4 separate regions of the Homo sapiens genome follow, and all the other regions are linked to region 1. Evidence: fine-mapped expression QTL. A gene starts in region 1. Each other region holds a variant in brackets. All regions are shown on one strand. Distances are between the middles of the regions.

The links. PIP is the estimated chance that this variant, and not a neighbour inherited with it, causes the effect. A credible set is the group of variants that fine-mapping cannot tell apart.
Region 2: its variant is the best candidate, but not a certain one, in a credible set for the expression of RTKN2 in esophagus mucosa (GTEx, PIP 0.59).
Region 3: its variant is the best candidate, but not a certain one, in a credible set for the expression of RTKN2 in whole blood (TOPMed, PIP 0.73).
Region 4: its variant is the best candidate, but not a certain one, in a credible set for the expression of RTKN2 in whole blood (INTERVAL, PIP 0.79).

The regions. Positions count from the first base shown.
Region 1 is chr10:62,266,446-62,271,601 of GRCh38, forward strand. RTKN2 (rhotekin 2) reads right to left here and starts at 2,399. Exons shown (of 12, transcript NM_145307.4): 1 at 2,106-2,399. The coding sequence starts at 2,165. All of the region lies in intron 1 of LINC02621 (long intergenic non-protein coding RNA 2621), which reads left to right. RefSeq lists a silencer at 2,151-2,480.
Region 2 is chr10:62,294,834-62,299,989 of GRCh38, forward strand. The region is part of intron 2 of LINC02621 (long intergenic non-protein coding RNA 2621); the gene reads left to right. Among named protein-coding and RNA genes, the nearest start is that of RTKN2, 29 kb to the left of the region's middle. The variant A/G (reference allele first, on the strand shown) is at 2,610.
Region 3 is chr10:62,216,045-62,221,200 of GRCh38, forward strand. RTKN2 (rhotekin 2) reads right to left here. Exons shown (of 12, transcript NM_145307.4): 8 at 2,151-2,257; 9 at 1,074-1,205. Among named protein-coding and RNA genes, the nearest start is that of LINC02621, 41 kb to the right of the region's middle. The variant T/C (reference allele first, on the strand shown) is at 2,039.
Region 4 is chr10:62,059,420-62,064,575 of GRCh38, forward strand. All of the region lies in intron 7 of ARID5B (AT-rich interaction domain 5B), which reads left to right. Among named protein-coding and RNA genes, the nearest start is that of ARID5B, 160 kb to the left of the region's middle. The variant C/T (reference allele first, on the strand shown) is at 3,205.

The DNA of each region.
Region 1 (5,156 bases):
GTTCTCATTTTGCTAAAAGAAACTGTGTGGATTTTAAGAATTGTTTATGTACAGAAAAAAGTCTGGAAATTGTTAACAGCGGCCATTCTGGGGAATGGAACTGGAGACCGAATTCTTAAATTCATGTTTCTGTATATGTTGACTTTTCTGCAATGAGATAGTATTACTTTTTGAATTTTATTTTTATTAAGATGCCAAAAGCTTAAACATTTGTAAGAAAAGTAGGGGACTGCCCTAACCACTCAGATGAATAGGACAAAGGATAATAACAACAATAGTCATCTCTGAAGCACATCCTGAGTGCTAGGTGCTGTGATAAGTACTTTAGAGAGGTTCTCCAATTCCAACAGCTGTCTGGGATAGGCGGAATACCCAAGCTACAACGGTGGAAACTGAAACTTAGAAAACAGAGATAACTTATTCAAGGTTGCACAACAAGAAGAGTTTGGTTTGACCTGAATCTGACTCCAAAGCCAATACTCTATGCTGTGAGGAGTCGCAGAGGACTCCAGGGTTTCAGCAGAGGTGTTTGACCAGTGTGTGACCACCTCAAAATCTTTGGCCTTATCTCGATTACGTGGCAGCTTCATTCATGTATCAAAGGAAATACCAAATAAAAATTCAGTGTTAGTCAAGTATAAAATTATCTGACTCTCAATATTCCTGTTAGGTTGCAACCTACTACTATTTTGTGTTTTTTCTTCAAATCCAAACTGAGGAAGTAATTCCACATTTCAATCATTTTGATTTTGTCCTGCCTAAGAAATTAAGTATTGTATCTTCCCACATGTAAATAACCCAGGCTTTATGTATATTTAAACATTTATTTTCATTCCATGCAACTAAACTTCATGATTTTATCCTCTTGTCGCTTCTGTACCATTCCTATTCTTGCAGCCTGCAGCTCAATAAATACACCTGGACAGCTACACCTACACCTATATGATAGGTGCAAGAACATCAATAGAATGGCAATTCACTATAAATCAAGATTTTGTTAGCAATCAGGACAGCCAAAGTACATAACAGGACAGGACTGAAAAAAAGTACATCAAAATCTTTGAAATTTTTGAAAATGCTGGCATAAAACAGCATAAGTATTACTGATAAAGACACTGGACTTCTTTTGCATAATGAATCTTAATGTCTTGCTTTATTTTTCACAGTATTATTGAAAACTAATAATTTTGTGTCTGCTAAGGAAATCCCAGATTTTTAAACAAAGATATCAGGTGCCTCCATATGAATGAAATTGCAAATATTCTACCAATTTTGACCTACAAAACTGGCAATTTCATATGGCTTAACCTATTTCTGAAGTAGGTAAAAGAAGGTAGAGATTAAAATAGAAGTGAAGGTCCAGCTTAAAGACATCAGAGTTTTCTTTTAAGACCCTAAAGTTATGGTTAAGAGTGAAAAGTGGTAACATTTTAATAACTGATGCTGCCAAGAAATAATGTTGGTTTAGTAAAAAGTAAAATAAAAAGGTTTCTAACGCATTTTACATGGCTCAAAAGCAAACATCAAACTTCTATCCAATGTCACGTGTACTCCCTCTTTCCTTTCAAATGATTTGAGAAAGAACCCAGTATCAAACCTTCAACTTTTTCTAAAGTGCAGAGGTTGCTGTTTGCCTCTACTCCGCTCCGAACCCCCTCCCCCCAACCAGTTCTGTGTTGTGTGTAGACATCGCTCCATTACTGTGCTTCCCATTAAATCCGTAATAAGCCAGCTGTCCACTGGCCTCGCTGGGTTTCTTGGGAATCGAGGGGCTCCCATTTCCCCGGCATCACCTACACCTGCAAAAAGACAGGCGTCCAAAGCCTGGGGAGGGCAGCGGACAGGTGCGCCCGCAAACGCGCGCCTGGACCCCGGCACCGCCTTCCCAATCCGGACCTCAGCTGCCTGAGAAACTCGGGGGTTCCGATGTCCAGGCCCTTTAGAGCCCCAAGAGCGCAGTCTCCTAATCCCTCCCTTTGTTTCTGGCCACCGCTGAAATAGAGGAGCGGGGGAGAGGCTTTCCCGACTCCTCCACAAAGCAAATGCGCGAGGAACAGAACCCCGGCTCCCTCACCTTCCGCGGCAGGGTCCCTCCCGCAACTCACCTGCTGGGTGGGAAGCCCCGCCAGGCGGAGCGCAGGACCCCTCAGGCTCGGCCCCTCCATCTCCAACGCGAACTGTCCGGGCCGTCGCCACTCCTTCAAAGGGAAGATTTGAAAAGCCCGCCCCTGGCAGGAGCCGCAGAGGACGCCAACCGCCCGGCCGTACCAAGTCCCAGTCGCAGGGGCCGGGGGCGCAGGAGGAGCCGGGCCGAAGCGCACGCGCAGTGGGCGCGCCTTGCGCTCTGCAGCTCCCGCCGCCGGAAGTTGCCGAGACCCCAGGCTCTAGCGCGGCGGGGCGGGGGAGAGGGCGGCGGTGCCGGACTTAAGTCCCGGACAGGGATGTGGGCGGGCCTGGGACGGGAGTGGGAGGGGCCGCGGGGAAAGCTTCGGCGGCGGAGCGCACCTGTCCCAGCTCAGGTTTCTGGCTGGTGGTTTTCGTGGCACGCCCTTTGCACTGGGAGCTTTCTGCCCGCATCCCACCGAAGGCCTTCCAAAGTGATCGTAGCTGGACAGACTCGAGGCTGCAGTCCCTGTACTCCCAGACAACTCAGGAACCCACAGCGTCACTAAGAGCCCACGGTCTCGTTCCTAAAGAACCAATAACATTACTCTCAAACACAGCGCTCTCTGTTTCCTCTCACCTTTCCCAGCGTTGTCACCAGGGTCACCCAGATATCATGGTTTTATTCATCAGGTTCGTGAGATACTATGTCAGGCATTTCACAAGGTCTTGTCTTTGCCCCCAGTGTTTATAATCCCAGATGTTCCCCGCCAACTACTCTGTCCACTTACTTTGTTTTCTTGCGAAGGATTTCTTTCAGCTCTCTCGCCCTCTCTTTCCCTCTCCAACATCTAAGGTGATAGCAAAATGGGGTACTATTTCTCAAGAGCCTCATTTCTTGCTGCCCTAAAGATTAGCACAAAGACCCATTTTAATTCATGGATTTTGTTAATTATAAAGGGAAACATGGGATTTTTAAAAATCAAAATGAAAGCAGCAAAGATATCACACCCTTGAAAAGTCCTTAAAATTCATTGTCCCTAGTTTATCTTTATTTCCCCCTTGAAAAGGCAAGAGGAAGCCTCTTCTTGAAGAGTCTACCAAATCAACCCTCCAGCCCTCATCGCCTAGAAACCCTTGGGCATTTTTCCTCCATAAATAGGTGCCCATGTTTTTTCATTTGCCTGGGACAGACCCTGTCTGGGTCTGTTGTCCCAATGTTGCACCAATCTTGCACTTATCCCGTAGTGGATATTATGTGGTCATTTTAACTGCAAGACCCTTTTAAAAGCAGTTGGTTTGAGAATGTACTTTAAAAATATAATGGATACCCTTCCTCAAATAGGTAAAATGCCTCTTTAAGACCTTTTGGACTAGGTGATACTAGAAGCTTCCCAGTTGGGAATGATGGTCCCCTTGCATTATGAATGACCCATATCCTTACAACAATAAAATATGTGTTCAAAATTATCAACACGGAGCTCACCTCGTTTTCTACAAACACAGGTCTGAATTTCAGAATCATTATGTGCCCTTTCCTCCAATGCACATCTCTGTCTTATGCTACCACTTTGTGGTATAATTATCTCCTACTCAGTATGAGGCTGCATGAGCCTAGCTGTAGTACCTGACTCAAAAGAAAAACACACCGCGAGCCCATCATCAGACACATAGTACTTACAACACATACAGCTCTCAGTTGCAGATCAAAATACATGTAGAAGCCAGCACTTCATTAAAACAGAGGTGAGTCAACCAGTTTAGAATTGGACACTGATAGAGGAGTATTTGATGAGTTAAAACCAGATATTTAACTGGAGATACATTTATTTATGATACTAGAAGAAAGAGATTAGGCAAGATCATATTTAGTAATTATCTGTAGAATACAGTTGTTACAAGAGACCTTTCTCTTGGGAGAAGAAGTTATGATGTGGTCCTGTTTTTATTATACACCGGGAGAGGTCCCCAGGAATTGCTTAAGTACTTAATTATTATATGATGATTAAAATACCTTGGAGTAGGACTTATGTTTCCTTATTTATCCTCAAGTCCTTACTTGTTACTGCTAATTTCATCAGCCAGTTTTCTCTGGTGTATGTAATGCACATAAAATATACTCATCCATGGAAACTACAAAATTTAAAGAGTTCATATGCAGTGGCTTCATTAGCTTGAGGATTTCTCTATCAATCTATTTATTTTACAGTTCCCAGAAAGTGAGAAGTACTACGTTTTACCATCTCAAATATCTGAGAGAGAACATTTGGGCATCTCTTAACCCATCATCCCTGGGCTCTTACAGAAGGTCGATATCCACCGAACTGCCCAGATGTAGTAGCTTCAGCTAGAGGATGAGTGATGGAATTACTGTCCTACCAATATTACTTCTCACTATAAGGTCAATATTTAATACTAATTAAAAATATACGTATATTAGTTATCCCTAATATAGCAGATAGTATTATAATAAATTAAAAACTACAGAAGCCAATCTAGATAATACCAATAGATGCCAAAGTATATTTTTCTTCTCTTATTTTCTGTATTCTTGTTTTAAACTAAGAGGCTAAAGGAAAACACTGAACTTAAAATCAGCTCTCTGTTACACAACAGATCCATTATTTTGAAAAATGTGGTTTGACACAGAACAGATAACTTGTGATTTTGAATATCCTCCTAGCCTCTCTTATAAAAAAAAAGTCCTCTTAAAAATTCTCTTGGTGCTTTCTTTTACTCATCTGTTCATCTTGTAGATAATCTGTTTAGGTTGAACTGAATAAATTAAAGTTATATTTTGAATTATATATGGAAGAAACAGAGAGAAAGAAGGAACTGAGGTCAAGGTGCTAAGCAGAAGTGCAGCATTTTCTTAAATGAATGTCTATGAATAGCTGAAGCATCACATAATCAGAAGGAGGCTATGGAATGTGGAGTCTGAGGATTTATTAGCCCGATTACCTTGGGCAAGCCACTCAGTTTTCTTATCTATAAAACAAGTATATAATACCCATCTTGTTTTTTAAAGTTGTTGGGAGACTCAGATAAGATTT
Region 2 (5,156 bases), 28 kb after region 1:
CTCACTTTATTCAAAAATTAATTTTAAATGAATAATTTAACCTAACACTTTTAGAATGAAACGTAGGTTAACAATCTTCACGACTTGGGAGTAGGGAAAAAATATATATCTATATTTTATATATATACCTCAGGCATATATATGTGTGTGTGTATATATATATAGGTATATATGTGTATATATATATAGGTATATATACGTGTGTGTATATATATATATAGGTATATATATGTGTATATATATATATACCTCAGAAGTTGGTTTATCATGCTGTGGTGAGCCTGTCTTTCCATTTAATATATATATATATATATAAAATGGATTATATATATATATAATACCAAAAGCATAATTCATAAAGGAAATATTTATAAATGATTATTTATCAAAATTAAAAGATATTTTCTCTGTGAAGGACACTTAAGAGAATGAAAAGAGAAGTTAAAGAGTAAGATAAAATATTTTCAAATCGCATATTCTACAAAAAAGACCTGTATCCAGTATACATAAAATTCAACAATACGAAAGCAAACTCCCTAAGTTAAAAAATGAGCAAAAGACTTGACTAGACACTTCATCACAAAAAATATACAAAAGGCAAATATGCACATGAAAAGATGCTCAACATTGTTAGACACATAGGAAATGCCAATTAAAACAAATGAGATATCACTTTAAGGCTATTAGAAGTTTAAAAAAAGGTAATATCAAATGTTCTGCCACTGAAACTCTAAATGTTCTGCCACGGAAACTCTCAAACATTGCCAGTGTGAATACAGAATGGTACAACCACTGTGGAAAAGAGTTTGGCAGTTTCTCATAAAATTAAACATACATTTATGGTCCAGCAATCTCACTCCTAGGTATTTACCCAAGTGAAATGAAAACCTATGTTCCAGTAAAAATCTATATACAAATGTTTATAGCAGTTCTCTTCATAATAGCTAAAATTGGAAACCACCCAAAGGGTCAATAGGTAAACAAAACTGTGGTTCACCTTTCAAAAAGTGAATGTGTAAACAGGACAGTGGTACAAACATCCAATTGAATACTACTCAGTAACAAAAAGGAACCAAACTATTGATACACACAGCCGCTTGAGTGTATATCAAAGACATTGTGCTGAGTTAAAGAAGCCAATTTCAAAATGTTACATGCTATATGATTCCATGTAGATGATCTTTTTAAGAAGAAAGAGTTATGTCAATGGAGAACAGTCCAGTGTTTGCCAGGGGTTGGGGTTGAGGGAGAATATGACTACAAAGGGGTAGCATGAGACTTTTTTTTTGGTGTTGCGGGACTGTCTATATCCTGACTTTGGTGGTGGTGGTTATATGAATCTATATTTGTGTCAAAATTCACAGAACTATACTCTTTCAAAAAATCAATATTATCATGTTTATTTTTAAAAAATTAAAAACAAAATAGAAAAACCCTCCCAGCACTCCCTATGCTCCTAAAGAAATAAAAGAATAGTCAAGACAATTTTGAAAAGAAAGAACTTGGTGAAAGGTTCTATTTTGTTAGATATCAAGACTTATTGTAAAGTTATATTAATTAAAATGGTATGGTATTTTCACAAGATTAGACAGACCAATGAAATAGACTGAAGCCCAGAAATAGATCTATGCATAGACAGATATCTAATTTATGAAAAAGGTGGCATTACAGAGCAATGGACAAAGGATGGTCATTTAAATAGATGGTGCTGGGACAGCCTGAGTGCCTATACAGAAGAAAGATCAACTACAAGTTATATTGTAGGTCTAAATATGAAAGACAAAACAATAAAGCTTTTGGAAGACAATATGGAAGAATGTATTCATAGCCTCAGTGTGGGGAAATATCTATTTAAACAGAATAAAAATACAAATAAGGCTATTCATCACAGTTGTTTATATAATAAATAGAAATAATCCAAGTGTTCAATAATCATAAAGGCTTAAATTATGAATGGAATAAATATTACCATGTAAGTAATCTTTTAAAATAATATTTAATAATATGGCAAAATGTTTGCAATATAACATTAAGTGACAAAAGCATGAGCTAAACTATAAATATTTGTTACTAGAAACATATTAGAAAATAAATATACAAGATATTATCTCTGGTCTTTGAGTCAGATTCCTGACAGGATATGGTTAGCACACTCAGACTAGGTATTTTGAAAAGCATTTAATAAAGGAACATTTTACAAAGATGTGAGAAGGATTTAAAGAGAGAGATTGCCAGAACCCAAGTGGGTGGCTGTGTGCAGTGGGCTGTCTGACAGGAGCCCTTTCATAGACAGATGCAGTAGGGAGTGAACAAGGAGAGTAAATACCCCAGTCTCTCTCCTCCACCCCTCCACTCTCCTGCTGGTGCCTCCCATTGTCCAAGCCCAACTGGAAGGCACAAGGCAAGGAAGCTGGTTGATGCAGCCCCTACAGATCAGGCTCCGAGGGGACAACACAGGGTGAAGAAAGCAGGAGAGTGGATTTGCAGGGGCACATGGGCGGCATCCAGTATATCTGTATGGTGGGATTAGTGGTGATGATTTTTTTTTTTTCATTATAGGTTTTTTTTTTTCCTCCAAATTTCAAGAAAGAACATGCATTAAAGTGGGG[A/G]AAAAGTGTTATCAAACCCTAGACATATTATCTGAACATCTAAACATAGCATGTGTTAGGGGCTGGGGAGTATGTGCATGCAAGGGAGTGTACATATATCCCTTTATTGTAGAACCTGTCATTCATCTATATCTGACACTTTTCTGCCTGTATGATGGTTATTTACTGTCACTTCCCACCACAATGTAAACTCTCGGAAAGCAGGGGCCCCATGGATCTTGAACACCATCATCTCCACCTAGAGTGCCCACTCATAGGCACTCAATTCTTAGTTTAATGAATGTATGTCCACCACACATGTCCATGCATACATGCACCAAGCAGGGAACGGGGGATGAGAAGGCCATCTCCCTGTTAATTATTAATACCGAATGAGTACAAAACACCTTTAGGTCTGTTTTGAAATTCAGTGCTGAAATGATGATAAGTGGTTATTTAATCTTACATAAAATTTCAAAAGTAAAGTCCCACTTGCCAAGAGAAAATTGTTGGTTTTTACAGAGCATACTATTTCTTTTGAATATTAACTACGCAATTATACCTCAGAAGTTGGGTTGCCATGCTGTGGTGAGCCTGACTTTCCATTTAATATAAACGAACAGATGTTCCGTGCATGCTGGGGACAGGGGAATCTGTCCTCCTTTCTCTTGTTTCCCACCCACAACCCCGCTGACTGTTCTCCACATTGTGGGTACATCCACTCTTCGAATTATGCAACACAGAATCAGGAACCATGCTCCCAGTTTCTTGGCATTAGATCACCATTTTGCTTTAAAAAGAGAAGTTTTTGAGGTTAATCATAAAGGTAAATGAAAGTTTGGAACAACCCAGGGAGAAGGAGTGGAGGCTCAGGGATAAAGTTTAGAGGCAGAATACAATTTGTGAGAGTTAAAAGATAAATTTAGAATGTGTTATTTCGAATCTAATTACATTTCCAGCGGCAGTTGCTGACCAAGGACTAAAATCTTGATATCTTGATTCTAATCAGTAAATAAAGAGAATGAGAATTTATCTTCTAGGAATTCTACTTAAATAATTTTGAAATTATTTTGTTACTAAACGTTTTCTTGCATGTGCCTTCTAATATATTTTGTTTCAAGTCCATGCTATAAGCCATTATTAATGGTTTGCTTCTTAGGAATTTATGATCAAGACATACAGGAGAGCCCCTTATTTTTTGGGTTCCATCTTCCACATCTGGTGGGAATTGGGGTGTGGAAAAGGAACTGCCCACAGGGTAGCTCTGGGAAGTGGAAGCTTTCAGGGAGTCAACGCAGAGAAGGCTGACAGCTAAGAAGTGTCATGTACCTGGAAGGACCATCCAGTGCAGAAGGGGAGAGGACTAAGGTCACTAGTCCTGTTGAAGGGCAAAGGTGAAAAGATAGAGTGGCAATAATGTTGGTTACCAGGAAGTTTTCTAGATACTATAATTTTGGTTTTAGTTGTTTTAAAAATGGGGTGGAACCAACAGAATGTTTCTACTGTTTCAACTTCCCAAGTAAGAATGTTGTGGCAGCCACTACAAGCTACCTAGTCAGTAGCCATTCCCTCCTTCTCTTCCTTGCTAATAGTCAGACTTGTTCAGTTAGACAGGACAGATCCCTGACCATAGGAAAGATTGGCCTCTTCTTCAACCCTAAGGGTGAATCATGAGACTTTAGACTAGTGCGGTAATTCATTCATTTATTCAACAATTGTTAATTGAGTACTTACTATGAATCAGGCATAATTGTAATCATTAAGGATACAGCTCTGAATGAAACAGATAAAGTTCTTGCCCTCAAGGAGCTTATATTTTAGTGAGAGGAGATGAACGATAACTAAGTACATAAGCCAAGAGACTATGTCAGAAGGTGGGCTAGGGAGAACAATTAAGCAAGGTGAGCTAGGAAATGATGTATTGAGAGGTCAGGGATGGTGGTTCTTTTACATAGGATGGTTAGAGGGGACCCGTAGGAGAAGGGAGTGAGTCATGCCAGTATCTGGAGGCTGGAAGGCCTTGAGGAAAAGTCAGCCTGGGTGTGTTCAAAGACCAGCAAAGAAGCCAGGAGGTTTGGAACAGAGAGGGGGAAAACAGAAAGAGACCCAATCAGACAGGGAACACAGAAGATGAGTAGGAGGAGGTCAGATTGTGTAGGCCCACTACACTTTGGCTTTTACCCTACCTACAATGGGAAACTGCTGGAGGATTTGAAGACATGATTTGCAATTTGTTTTAAAAAGAGCTCTTTGGCCGTCATGATGTCCCCTGGTCAGTGATTGGTCTAAAGATTGTCATCTGACCCTGTTCTGTCCATTTACTGTGGAAGTCTTCTGTTGTCAAATTAAAACTAAACTAAACTAAACTAAACATTATGAATAGAAGGCACTTGCCTTTCCCTGCTTCTTTCTGTCTGGAGCTTTGATGTGATGCTTGGACTTGTAGCAGCTGTCTTGCTACCAAGAGGGAGAAAGGCATCGTGCTGTGGATGGTAGACTAGACATATAGATGGAGCCTGGGTCTTTGATAACATCACTGAACACTTATAGCAGCCCTTGATCTTCTAC
Region 3 (5,156 bases), 50 kb before region 1:
GACTTTCTGTAAGTAAAAAGCAGTGTAATTTCTAAAAGTGGAATAGAAACAGACAAAAATGTTATTATTGGAAAAGATCATGAAACTAAACTCAAGTCTTTATAGATCAGTAGACTGGTACCCACGCGTTTTCAGGAATACAACTATTATATAAAAGGACGTACAACTTTACATTCTTCTTTAAAGGATAATTTCAAAGACAAGGAGAACAAATGTGATGGCTCATGTTTTATCACACACTTCAACTACACCAAAGACAAGCAAAGTAGAACAACTAGAAACAATTAGGGGCAGCCCACAGGCAAAAACCATGATATTTTGGTTTAGAAATGCAATTATTTTAGAGTAGGAATGCTCTAAAAAATGAGGAAAGAAAAATCCTCTAATCAACACTAGACTTGAATAACAGACAAAGCTAAATTTAAGACCGTGAGGTAGAAGAAACTAAGTTTGCCTTATATTGAAGTTTTCCTATAGGATTCTAGATGAAAAAATTGTAGCTAGATTTCAATAGTCTCCTTTGTAACAAACCAGTATATATATACTTGACAAATTTTCTAGGTAGTGTGGTACTACTTTTTAAATGCAGTATAAGCACTCAACTATTCTAAATGGACTGTCAGGCTTTTCTGTTCTGTCAGAAGACTGGACAATTGCCTATCAATCCCATAAGAAATCAGAAAGTATAGTCAAGAATGTCTTTTTATGGCTTCATTTGAATGCTAACTAGAAACAGCATCACTATAATAACATGAGCTAACAATTTATGTTTAATCTCTTAAGTAAATTCATAAAAAATTTAAATATACTGCTAATGTGGAGTTACATTCTCTGCCTTAAAACCTATTTACTGGTATAGATGTCCATTACTATGTTTTCTTAGGAAATATACATTTTCTTATAACAGATAAGCTCTAATAGAAAAACAGAAACAGATTAAATCATATTTATGAAGTAACCTGTTTTTACCAGTACTTCTCTTTTATTTATAAGACAACAACAATGTAAACTGCACAGACAAAAACAAACTTCCTAAGATGTATATTTTTTTCTCAAAATAGCATTTCCTTTACCTTGTTAATGGGTACTACCAAAGCTGGTTCCACTTTAGCTTCAATTTCCTCTGGACTGTAAAAACAATAGAGTTTACCTCCTCGCAAAACACAATACAACCTTCTCCAACTAATCAGACCTTCTACCATTTGCTGAAAAAAAAAAAAAAAAAATCAAGAGACTATCAATTTTAAGTTATTATCACTTTAAATACATCAAAATACTTATCAAGGTTAAATTAGTTATTTAGAATTTTTAAAATGTGATGGAATTATCCATTAATTTGATATACAAAAGGTTAATTGCCCCAAATCCAAGAGTATGTTAATATCAGAGAAGAAAAGTTTGGAATTCTTAAAGGCATTAAGTGAAATGGAGGCAACGATTACCACCTAACTTTTACACACATAAAACCATAGATCAATGGTGTTTTAGAAAAGCTAGTCGATTAAAAATTAGTGCTTAGAATTCTATAGCAATTCATCAAATGACTCAGGAAAATTATAAAAACAATTCTGTATGTTCAAAATATTATTTTCCCTTACTGTTCTCAGAGCATCGGAAAATGTCAACTACCCTTTAAGAATGCAAATTTTCTTTCCTCCTAATGGAATCTTTTAGAAAAAGCTATTGATTCATTGAAGTTCACAATTAATTATTTACTGAATATAAATAACTATGGTTATAAATAAATCAGCAGTAGGTGGCACAGAGGCAGGCAGCTTTGGAAGCTCAGAGTCCTAAACCGTGCCAAACGCTGTCTGCCAGAAAGACCTTTATGTGAAAGGTGTTGAGCAGCCCTCATCAGTTTCCACACGGAGCCCTCTGTTGCTGATTATCCTGTTGCTGCTATTAATGAAGCAGAGGAGCATGGAGAGGTAGCGCCTTAGCCATCAACATCGCAGTAGATCCCTCCCTACCTTGTCATTCTTTTCACCCCGCACCCCCTACAGTTTATATCTGATAACATTTAGAAAACTGACAT[T/C]TAAAAAAAGACTTAAAAAATACTTCTCAATATCAGAAGGTGAAACAACTGCCTGTATATTAAGATTTAAAGTAGAGCTACAATTGTTGTAGGATATTTAAAGTCCTCTAACCTGCTGATTAAGAAATCCTGCAAATGCATCCTCAGCCATACAAGCTGGCTGGGCAACTAGTCGGCAGCACATGTTGCCATACAGGGGAAGCCAAAATGAAGACTCCTCTATTTAAAGGAGAAAGAAAAAAAAAAATCAAGTTATAAATATAAGTTTATTTAAGGTCATCATACATTTTGATTTTTCTCTTTTTACAATTTTGTTTTGCTTTGTACAGAACATATTTTAGAATTAGTTTCATGTAAAGATTCATCCTACCCAAATACCAGTGCCATATTAAGTGAGAAAATCAAATATGAGAATAGAAAGGACAGGATAATATTAAACTGACAGTTTATAGCATGCTATCACCTGAATAAAAATGAACTGTTTAGTCTCTTGTTTGATTTTAATTATTCAATGAAAGTTGTTCAGAGAATATAAGTGATCTCATTTAATATAAAAACATTCTAATAAAGTAATTTATGTTTGTCAAATTCTACTTTTTGTTCTGATTTTCATTATAATAATTAGAAAAGTGATCCTCTGAATAAAACATTATTTCACTTTGCGAGGCCGAGGCAGGCGGATCACTTGAGGTCAGGAGTTTGAGATCAGCCTGGCCAATATGGTGAAACCCTGTCTCTACTAAAAATACAAAAATTAGCTGGGCATGGTGGTGCATGCTTGTAGTCCCAGCTGCTTGGGAGGCTGAGGCCGAAGAATCGCTTGAGCCCAGGAGGCGGAGGTTGCAGTGAACTCAGACTGCACCACTGCACTTCAGCCTGGGCAACAAAGCAAGACTCCATCTCAAAAACAAAGCAAAACAAAAACAAAAAACATTATTTCAGAGAACTTAAGATAACTTCATCAACATTTTTGGCCCTTCCTCCTCCCCTTCTTTTGCTGAACAATTCAGTCATAAGCCATTAGATAGAGCCCCCAACATGAACATCTGTGCCAGGACTGGAGAAGGAGCTGTGGTGTGCTAGAAATGGATGATGGAGACAGGCAGAATGAGAATGGTGAGTAGCAGGGGCTGCCTGCAGGAGGTATCAGCACCTGAAGGGCCTGAGAGGGTGATGACACTGGGGCGCAGCCTAGATTTGGGACTCTGTCTTGAGCAAGCAGGGTAAAAGAGATATGCCTGGGAAGAGGAGCCTGACATCGAACATTAGAGCCCAATGAATGAAGAAGTAGCCCAGATTGAAGGACAATTAAAAAGCATGATAATTAAATGAAATGTATGATTCTGCATTGTATCCCTCTGCCATAAAGAACATTATTGTGACAATGGGCAACATCTTGAATGGACTCTGAGGATTATATGGTGGTAATGTATTAGTATTCATTTCTTGACTTCAAGAGTGATGATGATGTAGCTGAATGTCCTGATAGTAGGAAATATGTATTAATACATTTTGGGGTACAGACTATCATGTAAGCAACTTGCTGTCATAATTTTTTTGAGAAAAAAAAGATCTTGACATTTAAGCTGAGTGTGGTGGTGTCTGCCTGTAGTCCCAGCTACTCCAGAGGCCAAGGTGGGAGGAGTGCTTGCACCCAGGAGTTTGAGGCCAGACTAGGTAATATACCGATACCCATCTCTAATTAAAAAAAAAAAATCTTGACATTCAACTTGCAACTTTTCTGTAAGTTTGACATTGTTTAAAAAAGTTACTTCAAAAAACATTAAGATAGTCCTTTAATGAAGATACCTACCTGTGTACTACCTATCTATATGGAGGAAAGCATTAAATAATTTATTCTAGACATCAGAGTATAAATAAAAACCAAACATATGGCCCTTAGTTCACACTGGATCACATAAAAATGATTTTTAAAGTTTTGGCTGTGCCCTGTTGGTAGTGCCTACAAAATCGCTAGCTACTGGCCGTAACTATTATTCACCAAAAAGTTTTAATTACCCCAGAATTTTTTTTGTAAAAATAGTTAATATATACATGCAAGGCAGCAAAGGTTTGTAGTAAAACCAAAAAGTTTTAAATTTACCTACCCAAGATTCTACTATAGAATAGTACACAACAATGTTCTGAGACTATTCAAATCTTTTTCATTAATACATTTTAAAGCTGCTATATTTTAGAAATAAGGGGCTTAATCTGGGAAAAATAAATGCACGAGCATAATACATACAATTCCAAAATGCAAACACAAATAAACAAAAGTTATCTTTCCTAAAACAGGCAGCAAATGAAATGAAAATTCTGTAAAAGCATGTATTTCAGTAATACATCTGAAATCAACTTTGTGATTTGTAAATTTAGAAGTTTGAAAGCAAATTTCTTTATATAGGCAATCTCAGATTTATGAATAGCTTATGTTCTAAAAATCTGTAAGTTAGTTGAAAAGTACATCATAAAGAGTAAGAAACACGAAGGATACAATGAAAAAGACTAACATAGGTTTAACAGGCATGCAAAAAGAACAAAAGCTACACAACAGCAGAGGCAGTTTCAAACAGGTAGGAGAGATTTTGTCCAAACTGATGAAACATATCAACAATGTAAAGAAGCTCAAGAAACCCCAAGCAGCATAAATAAACTCTACACCTAATTATACCATGGTAAAATTTTAGAAAACCAAAGGCAAAAATAAATAAAAAGATTACACTCATAGTGGTGACATACTGGCAAATGATTTACAACATTTATAGTAAAATAATAAAAGCCAAAAATGTTGGAATTATATGTTCAATATTCAACAAGAAAAAATTAAAACTGCAGAATTAAGAAATATCTTCAATAATGAGGCAAAATAAAGCCATCTTCAGATAAACAAAAAGAACAAGAAGTCTGATATCAGCATAACTCACTAAAAGAAATTCTAAGGCTTATAATTCAAGCAGAGGGAAAAGTATCCCAGATGCAAGGCATAAGATACAAGTAGTGCACAGAAACATGTAGGTAAATCTAAATAAATATTAAATCTAAATAAGTACTAAAAAAAAAAAGAATTACAATATATAACAATAGCACATAGGTTAGGGAAAAGAGTTTAATTGTT
Region 4 (5,156 bases), 210 kb before region 1:
TTGGGGGTTTATTGGGCCGCTTTGGAAACAGTCCCAATTAGTTCCAGGTTTGGCAAAATTGTAAACTTGTCGTAAAAACTACAAGTGGAAAACATATGTAACTCTCCCCTGTCAGGGAAATTAGTTGGGTCTGTAATTTTTTCCCATGTTGAGAAAGGGCTATTATTGTACAACAAGCCAAGATTGCATAAAAGAAATTTCCCTTGGCAACATACCTGACATCTGTTCATGTCTAATATGGGAAATGTATTAAAGGCTTTCAAAAGTAATCAGTATTGGCCATTAAGGAATAGAATGCAGCAGAATCTCCTCTCATTCTAGGGCAAAGAAGCTTTATTAGACAAGGGTCAGTGCTGCATAAACAGGAAGTTATCAAACTTATTCGGAACAGGCTCTGACACTCTTTATCAGCTAATTCTAACTGACAGCAATGGGTTATTTTTAGCCCACAGGAAAATTTGATGGCCACGGATTTTTACAGCATGTATTTTGAACCAATGAAACATTACAGCAACAAACTGAGATTAAAATCTTTAAATAAGAAAGAGCTGCATAAATATAACCCACAGAGATGACATCTGTAATATAATCAATTGACATAGGAAGATGTTGTCATTGGGAATACTTTCTCCTCCACACAATGATCAGATTAAGTTGTGTAGTTTCTTCTTGCAATTGAATAAGAACTTATTTTTTCATTCCCTGAGAAGTAATCTGGGATATCTCTGTACCATAGTAAAATGACAGTAAGACACACAAAGTCAAGAAAATGAAATTCATTTTAGCCCAAACGTAATAACCAGTGCTTCTTGCCAGATAAAGCACATTGTTCCACAAACTAATATAATGGTTTGATGTGCGGGTCTTGGGATGGGGAAAGAGGACAAGCATTATGTGGTTCAGATAATCTGGTATTTTCTGTTGAGCTATCTGCTATGAATTCCGACTAAAAATTCTTTCATATGAATAATATGTGCTTGTAATATGTTTCATATATGGCGTATGTACACATGTTTATAAAGAAATATAGTCACATGGACTACATATAAAATGTGCATTTCATATTCATAAATTTACTTGAAATATTTATTTTATCAAGTGACCTATGTAAAAATAGTAATTTTTCACTTAGTGGAGTCTTTTGATAGGATCAGGATATGAACTCCTTGCCACTGTAGCTCATAGTTTATGGCAAAATCTTGAGCTAATTATAGCCCTCATTCATGTAAAAAAAAATGGTAACTTATTCAGGGTTAGTCTCATAAACGTAGAAGTCAACCCAATAGGCTAGACTTTCAAGTCTAGCTTTTAATGTTTAGAATAGGAATATACGTTTTTATATGAACCATGACTGCAGATAGTTATATGATATTGAACAATATTATGAAACGTCTTTTCACACTCTGGAACTTTTTGTTATTCACTGATAGGGAGAGTGCCAACAATTTCACAGAATCAGTTTTTCCTGCTTTTGTGTCTTCTGTATCTTCACAAAGATTTTTTTTCCATGCAACAGCAAGTTGATGTAGAATGTACAGAAGAAAGTTTAATAAATTTCAGGGCATTTGCAGTACTCTTTGAACAAATAGTATTTATCCTTTTGTTGGATGAATGAATGACCACACAATCAGCAAAACACCTGACCACATATTTACTGAGTACCTTATGTGTATGAGGCATTGTTTTAGACACTGTTAGATGCAAGGTTTCAGTCAGGCCAGTAATTTCAGTCCTTAAGTTGCTTACCATCCAAGAGAGCCAATAATGATCAAACAAGGTGGAAAAAGGTCAGTGCCCTACACAGGTAAAGTACTTACTCACGTAGAGATGAGAGAAGGAAGGCTTGATGGCTCTGAGGCCATTTGGGAAGAATTCTGGGGAATGGATAAAATTTAGACATGAATGATGGATTATGCCTTCCAGAAAGAGAGAATGAATCAAATAAGGGAAAATATATGGAGGTAGAATAAGGTTGGGCATGGAGAGTTTGAAAAACATAAAATAGAGTGATGAGGTGGCTGGGACAAGTGGCCCTGAAGGGAAGTTTCTAGAGAGAAGGATGGAGAGAAGATGGAACCAAGTGAGGAAAGTCCTCCGATGCTAGCTCCCTGATGTTAGGCCTTCAGATGCTAGGCCCTTTCATGCTGAGCCTCCAGATGCTATGCCCTCCCATGCCATGCCCCAAAGTTATTCATTAGGCTGTGGGAACTATGGAAAGTTGCCAGTTCCCCATCTCTGGTGATAAGAGTCGCCCCTCTTTCTGGTACTGTGTGGGCGCCTTCTCAATGGGAAATTTATGCCCTCCTTTTAGGCAGATAGGCAGATAAGGGGAGGGCAGAGAACTCTTCCTGCATCTGTTGGTTCTCTGTTGCCCTCATCTCAAAATAATCTTTATGCCAACGTGGCATAATTTAGGGGTGACATATTCTGATCCCCTTCACTGGGGCTGGGGAATATGGAGGATCAAATTGGCATCTGCTCTCCATCTGGTCATGAACAGAATTTTAAAAGGCATTTCTGCTTCATCCCTTCCTCATTTCCTTCCTTCCTTCTTCCTTTTTCTTTCTTTCTTTTTAAATGTTTCATGCTATAGATTGGCCCTGCAGATACTTCAGTTTGCCACCACTATTCTACATTTAAGCTTCTGAACCTCCTATAAGTACAGAATACATTTTTCTCTTGGCATATTTTGACTAATAAAACTGTGAGATGTTCAATGGGCATTGAATTTTGAAGTCAGTCCAGGAGATGTACAAATAATATCCAAAGTCTGAAGGCTTAAGCTGTCATCACAGAGTTACTAGAGGACACTTATCTTTGACATGATCTGATATCAGAAACGAGTGTAGACTTGTAGTCATTTAGAACTCAAAAGAGATCTTAGAGTCTTCTAGATCAGTGGCTCCTAAAAGCTACTCAAGAATAGGGCTCATGTTTTTAATGGGGAACTTTAAGTGGTTGTTTAGACCCCCACCCCAAGATATAAACTGTGGTGGGGCATGGGCCTGAGAAGCAGAGAATCCTTTTCTTTTAAGCTGCCCAGGTGATGTTAATTCAAATCCAGTGATAACAGTGATAAGTAACACTTAGCCAAGTGTTTCCCATGGCTCTTAGCTTCAGAGTGTGACCCCTATCTAAGTCAAGTATCAAAGATTTTTCTTCATGCCATTACTACAGAAACAGGGTAGAATACTCATATTCCTT[C/T]GGCTCAAGAGCAGCAGAGAGTTTCTGACAAGTATTTTTGCATTTGGTAAAATGGTAGTCTAAGTTGGAACTCAGTAAACTATTTTTGTTTTCAATGAGGGGAAGTGTAGAACTGTAGTACTCTCAAATTATTTTTTCTCAAATTGGCCTTTGTGCAAAAAAAAAAAAAAAAAAAAAAAAAGTATGCCTGCTGTGCCCCAGTTCATAGCCTCATTTTACAAGCGAGAAAACTGAGGCACTGGGAGATGAAATGAGTTGCATGGGATCATCATGGCTTTCTTCAAATTCTGACTCACTGAGAATTTGGTACACAATTGTCTCACCCTCTGTAGCGTTGCTGAAAGAGATTTATAAATGATTATTCTTTGTGGCTTTCCATTCCTAGCAATCACTAATCTAAAATGCCTCCTACATATTTGGGGCAATGTTTTGGGGAAAGGATCTGATAACCTGCCTTTTGTAGCATCTTTTAGTCTGTTTTGTAGCATCTTTTAGTCTCTTCTTTGTATTTAACATTTGTAGCTTCTTTTAGTCTGTTTTTTGTATCTAACATGAGCTTTACCAGATGTACTAATTACTAGCTGAGATTTTTATCTGACTCTTGAGAACAAAATGTGTGAATTCAGGAGATGAGTCAAGAAGTATGGATAATGTAAATATTCAATAATAGTAAAAAACTGCAAGTATAAAAGCTGTAGATGTATTGCTTCTGCGGTTAACTTGTGATTGGATAAAGACATCTCTCTGGAATCCCTTCTGGTTATAAAAAGAGGCCATCTTAATTGGCTTGTTTTTGTTTGTGGTTATAAACTATTCCAAACCTTCTGGTTTGAATTGCGGATTATGGATTATTTCATTTCAGTCCTCTACAACCATCAAATTGAATTAAAAAAAAAAAAAAGAGGAGCAGAAGTTTCATTGTAAGCCTTTATAGCATTTGACTAATGGCTATATGCAGTTCTCTCAGTCTCTTCTGCCTTTGCTGGAAATGTATAGAGTGTTTCTTCATCCTTAGGTTGAGAGAGCATAAATATATTGAATGGATTTGATTTCCTACAAAACAATATTCTGGCATTTTGATTAATTGACGAGGACCCTTCCTTTGCAATGTACCCAACTTTTCCTTCCAAACATTAGAATGTGGATCACCTACATTTGAAGAGGTAGAGCTGGATAAATCTTTGCTGATGAACTAAAAAGGCTTTCACTTCAGTGTCTGGTGAAGCAATTAATGCTGGAAGAGTAGCTTGGGGTATTACCAGGATGCAGCATATGGCGGTGGTTTGCTAAAGTGATTTCCATTTGGCTAACCACTTGATGGCAAGCCAGAGGCAGTATCTGGAGAGAAGGTAGAGTTGGGAAATGGGTCTTGAGTACATCTTGTCCTCAAGGCACAGGGTGATACACAGTGGTGCCTTCTAAGAATGTCAGTTAGCAACCCTTTCTCCTGCCACCAGTGAGACAGGGCCATTGTTCTTCATCTGGAAGAAGCCTCTTTCCTTGCTGAAAGGATTAGGCTTTGACATCAAATTCTGGCTTTGACATCATTTTTAAGACATCCTCTGAATCTAACCCTAGTTTTCTGAACAGGCAAAGCCTCTCGCTTAAATTCAAAATTCTCCAGGCCAAAGATGATGTCATGTAGTTTTGAAAGGCTCCAGTTCCTGGAGTACTACCAGGAAAAGAAAGTCATCTTCCTTGAATTCAGTCCACCCTCAAGGTGTCCTGAGAAAGAAGCTGTTTCTCAGAACAGCCCAGGCAACATTGCTTTCAGGCAAACTCTTCTGTTGACTTCGTATTTCCTACACATTCTTAAGCCACTGAAAGAGTTTAAGTCTGAAAGATTTCTGATACCTATTTCCTCACCAGGCTGCAAAAATACCAGAATTATTTCATTCCTGCAGCCTCAAAGATAGAGAAATCAAGGCTCCAAGAGCATGTCTTGAGCTAAA